2 separate regions of the Homo sapiens genome follow, and region 2 is linked to region 1. Evidence: fine-mapped expression QTL. Tissue or cell type: whole blood. Region 1 holds a variant in brackets; the other region holds the start of a gene. All regions are shown on one strand. Distances are between the middles of the regions.

What was found. PIP is the estimated chance that this variant, and not a neighbour inherited with it, causes the effect.
Region 2: VAV2 starts here. The variant in region 1 is fine-mapped to the expression of VAV2 in whole blood (TOPMed, PIP above 0.99).

The regions. Positions count from the first base shown.
Region 1 is chr9:133,821,591-133,824,090 of GRCh38, forward strand. The region is part of intron 4 of VAV2 (vav guanine nucleotide exchange factor 2); the gene reads right to left. Among named protein-coding and RNA genes, the nearest start is that of SARDH, 84 kb to the left of the region's middle. RefSeq lists enhancers at 1,134-1,183, 1,524-1,613. The variant T/TG (reference allele first, on the strand shown) is at 1,228.
Region 2 is chr9:133,990,932-133,993,556 of GRCh38, forward strand. It overlaps VAV2 (vav guanine nucleotide exchange factor 2), which reads right to left and starts at 1,393. Exons shown (of 30, transcript NM_001134398.2): 1 at 1,144-1,393. The coding sequence starts at 1,347. RefSeq lists enhancers at 1-435, 436-1,163, 1,892-2,619, 2,516-2,625 and silencers at 546-985, 1,026-1,115, 1,386-1,535, 1,596-1,695, 1,796-2,105.

The sequences.
Region 1 (2,500 bases):
CATTTAGCACAGGGGCCGGTCTCAACACATAGTGTGGTCAGCATTAAAAATGACAGATTTTTTAAAACCTAGGAGACTAAAAAGTTGGATGGGGGTTGGTGCTGCGTTAGTTCCTGCTCAGCTGTGTTGCTTTTGTGGGTTTCAGGGATCATTCTTCTCTGTCCAGTGGTCCATGAGGAGGCCCGAGATGGCCAGGCAGGAATGTGGAAGCCCAGACGTGAATGGGCCTCCACGGCCAGACCTGGGCCCCAGCCCAGCTCCCTCCACCCCAGGCCAGTGACCACCCCTCCTTCCTTCCTGCCCCGTCTCATCCTTTCACTCCTGCTGTTTTCTGGGAGTCAGCTGCGCTGACAGATGCTAAATCCCGACCATTATTTTTGTCCTCACAATAGCTTGAAATCTTCCAGGAGGGGCCCCGAGCACGGCTGTAGCTCTCCAGGGACGGCAAAACCTGCCACCTTCACCTTCTGCCCGAGACCCTGAGGCCCCAGCCCAACAACCTCGCCCACCTGCCCCGATTCTGTTACAGAAAGGCAGCTGCTCAGAGGCCATTGCCCCCGCCGCCCACAGAAAATCAAAAGAAAACCAACAAACTCTGCTTTCTGCCCCTGGTGAGCCTGTGTGTTTACGGCGGACATAAAATAGTGTTGCTGACAGGCTGGGATGCGCCGCACTGGCCCCGGGCTGTCTGATGCTGCCAAGCAGGGTACCAAGCTGCCATTAGTGTGTTACTAGGAAACCGAGTCGGATGTTTCCTGACCTCCGTCCACACCTCAGGGTGCTTCATCCCCAGGGGACTGGGGTGGGGGCAGCAGAGAGAAGGCGCATCGAGCCTCTGAAGAAGCCGGCTGGGAACTGGATGGTGTGCATGTGGGGAAGGACGGACGGAGAGATAGACAGACAGACAGACAAGAACCGCTTTACACATCAGGGAGCTTGTTCTCACACGCCCTGGCAGACCCTCACCACGACCCATGAGGGAGGGAGGCCTTGCTTTTTCTACAGGTGGGGAAACCAGGGCTCAGAGAGGGCATGAGAGTCACCCAGCTCGCCAAGCCACATAGGCGGGTACCTGCACAGGCCCCAGCTACCAGATTCCCGGAAGGAGACCCGTCCACCGGACTGTCCCTCCTGGCCGTAACTCCCTCTTTTTGGGGGCTTCTTTCTAAGCAGTAAAAGAGCCTCCCACCATCTAAAAATATTCAGGAACCAAAAAAGAACAGCCCC[T/TG]GGGCCAGGTCACAAGGACTAGGCCCAGGGGAATGTCCCGGGCCACAGCACAGGGTTTCATTTCCCCCTCTGCTATGTGAGGCATGCTGTGTGACCTCCGGCAAGTCACCTACCCTCTCTGAGCCTTAATTTGTGCAACTGCAAAATGGGGGCTGGAGCACCCACCTTGCAGAGTTGTGAGGGCTGAGATGAAGCGGCAAAGCCCAGGGCCTGGCTCTCAGGGGACAGGAGCAGGGATTGTCGAACAGCGTATGGACCTATGGCTCAGATCCTCCAGTATGGGAATCGTGAATGCTCTCGGGACCTCATTATCCCCAGCCCTTCCTCCTACCACAGTGAACCAGGCCCAGGCCTAGTTAGGTGTCCTCTCTGTGCTCTGCTCCTTTATGAATGACCCTTATGGAGCGTTTATCTCAGCAGTGAGAAACAGAAGCAGGAAGACAAGGGAAAGTTGGTGGCAGAGACTGTCCTGCTGTCCTTTCTAAGCATCTGGTGAAGGTGAACTTCAATTCAGCCTGGTAGGGTTGGGGGCTGCCTCTTAGAGAAGGTGACCTGTGGGTTGGGTTTTGTAGAATGAATAGGAGTTGGGCAATCGATATAGGAGATACTACGTACGTGATGGGACTTCTACAATAAAACCCAGCATGTGACGCTTGTTCATTTTAGAGCAATATTTCTTAAGTGCCACTGTGTGTCAGTCAGATCTACGCTGAATACAAGGGAAATAACGTCAAAAGGGAGAAGTCTTCCTCTTCCTGGAGTTCCAGAACAGCACGAGGAGGGCGATTTAGAGGGGGAGGGACCTTCATCAGACACAGCACAGCCCTCTCATTCGGGCCGAAGCCCAGCTGCCTACTCCTTCCTGGAAAATGGCAAGATGAATGCGTATGTCTTTAAAGCTGCCCTTCTGCGCCGGTCCCCTCCCTCTGCAGAGACTGCATTAAATGAGACCAGAGAGTTGCTGTGACCGAATCAGTCCTGAAAGCACTCGAGTTTAACGAGGTATTAAAAATGAAAACCCCTGGAAGTCCCAGGCCATACCTGCTCACACACACACGGGAATGCGGAGCGGGCAGGGTGGTCACGCGCACCTGCTCTGCGTGCGTCAGAGGGTTCCCCTGCGATCTCCCACTGAGAAGGAACAAACGGCCTCTCCCTCAGTGGTGGGGGTGGGGGAGCAGGGTTTCGAGGTCACTGAAGCCCCCAGCCACGTGGCAGCAGGGCCTCTGGAGACAGCTGGGGCCCACTGTGGTGCCAGAGTACCAAGGGGCCC
Region 2 (2,625 bases), 170 kb after region 1:
AGCGCCCCCCAACCCGGCAGAGAAAGGCCCGGTCTCCTAGGAAACGCAGTCACCGCCAAAGGGCAGAGGCCTCGCTGCCCAGCCTGGAATCGCTGGTGACTCACTCTCCCTCCTTCCCAGGAACCACGTCCTAAGTCCCACTGGTGAATGGTCCCTCTCCACATGGAGTTGCCACTGCGCGCGGTGAGGGGCTGCTGAGCTGGCTGGAAGACCGCACCTCCTCGGCGCTGGGTGGACCCGGCTGCCACCCGCTCTGCCTCCCCCGACCTCTTCTAAGCTGCTCCCGGTAAGGATTCCGCGACCCCCGGAGAACAGGACGGAAGCCTCGATTCTCTCAAGTCTTAGCCAAGTTCCCTCTTAAGAGGCCAAGAAAAGCAGCTTCGTTCGGCTGGGCAGGCATTTTCCTGCCTGGCCCTGCGGCCGCACGCGTGCCTCCGCCGCGACAAAGGCCACACTCAGCGCCCGAAGGAGGGGTGGGGGTGTTGGGAAAGCGATGGGGGCCAGGACTGGGGCCAAGTGGCCCTGGGGATCCTCGAGGCGGCTCGACCCGGGAGCCAGGACTGGCGCCAAGTGGCCCGGGTCCGGGTCCGGGAAGAGGCGGAGGCCGGCGAGGGGGCGGTGCCCGGGGCCAACCCAGCTCCCTCCGGCCCCGAGGGCTCCCGCCCCGCGCCCCTCCCGGGCCCTCCAGCCGCGCCCCGGGCCGGCGCAGCGACCGCGCCCGCTCTTCCACCGGCGTCCGGCCAGGAGGCGCGAGGCCCAAGGATGCGACCCACGACGCGCACACCCGGCTCGGCAGGCTCCCTGGGAAATGAGGGGCCACTCGCAGGGCCCCGCAGAGCGAGCGCAGCGCCGGAGCCTCCCCCATCCCAGGCCGCGCAGACCGCGGAACCGGCGCACCAGAGCAGTGCCCGCGGGCGGCGGCGGCGCGACCCAGGCTGAGGGGACTTTGGCCAACTTCGCGCCTCCTGAGGTCGCGTCTCGGAGGCCCGGGGCGCACCCTCCAGCCGCCCGCCCGCGTCCCGGAGCCCGGCCGCCCCAGCCAGGGCGCCTGGGCCGCCGCCGCTGCGACCTCCGCGTTCAGTCCGCGCGTCGGGCAGCGCGAACGCCGCCTCCCCGGGGCCCTCCCGCCCGCCGGGCGCTCACCTGGGACATCTGCGGCCGGAAGTTGATGTCCTTGAGGTCGATGGAGCCGGGGGAGAGGTTGTGCAGCAGCTGGCACAGAAGGACCCCGTCGCGCAGCGCCTGCGCCAGGTCGAAGACCACGGCCGAGGGCCACACCACCCGGTGGTTGGGCGGCAGGACCTTGCAATCGATGAGCCAGCGGCCGCACTGCCGCCACTGCTCCATGGCGCCCGCGGGCCCGACCGGCTCAGGGCAGTGCTCGAGCCAAAGTGCAGCGGCCGCGGGGCATCCCGCCCGCGCGCGCGCGGGGCTCAGGGCCGGGGCGGGGCTTCGCGCGGGCTGCCCCAGGTCCCCCGCTGCGCCGCCGTGCGTCCCCTCCTCTTCCTCCTCCTACTCCTCGGGCTCCTCTCGGGCCGCCGCTCCCGCCCACGTGCGGCCGCGGGGCGGGCAACGGGCAGCGCGCCGGATCTCCCCGCTTCACACACGCAAGTGCCTGCGGGCCCCGGGCCGGGCTCCACGCAGCCAGTCGCCGCAGCGCTCCCCAATCCGCGCCGCCGGGCGCCGCATTCTGCGCTCGGGGCGCCCCGCGGCCGCCGCGGCTCCTGCCCCGCCCGAGACAAAGGCCCGGCGGGGTCGCTCGCTCCGCGCGTCCCGGGCCTGGGCCGCCCGCGTCGCCGCCGCTTTGTTCGCCCCACCCGCAGTCCCCACGCCCGGCGCTGCGACTCGACGACTCGGCGGCTCGGCGGCTCCACGGCTCCGGGGCGCTGGGGGCGCAGGGGGCGCGGCCACGGCCGGGCGGGGCAGGGGCGGGGCCGGAGCACTCGCCTGGCACCTCCCCGTGTCCCAAGCGCCGCCCCCGCCCCCCCACTTCCTGCCCCGCTACCGCCCGCGAAAGTTGCGGTGGGCGGGGGTTGCGGCGCAGGCCCAGGTCCGGCCGACTTTCTCCAAGGGCGCTCGGACTTTGGGGAGCCCTTCTCCCTGGGGGAGCGACCTCGCCCGTGGAGTGATGGCCGGGCGTCCCCCCGGGTGCCTTTGGTCCTCCGTGGAGGTCAGGAGGTGGTCCCTGTCGCGCTGGGCGCCCTCGCATGGCCGTTCGGTAACGACAGACTCGGGAGAGGGCACCGGGCTGGGCCGAAGCTTACTGAGCCCCCTTGGCCCATCAAGCCGCCCCGGCGGGATACCCGAGGCTGAGGCTGAAGGCACACGGGCCCAGGACTCCCAGAGCCCTCTTCCTGTCCTCCGCCCTGGCCGGGGGCCCATAGGAAGACCCCCGACCCTGCATAAAGGCCAGGATTCCCCAGCTTTTGGCCAAAGTCCTGGCCACTCGCAGCTGCCCAGCGGGCAGTTCCTGGCGTCCAGGGCGGAATGCGTGACATGAGTGAGGGCAGGAAGGTGCTCTCCGGCCCAGGGTCGCAGCCGGCCCCGGTGCTGATCCGCCCTGATCTCCCTTCTAGGCCACACCCTGGGTGGTGGGGGCGCGGTCTGTCCAGCTGGCAACGTGTG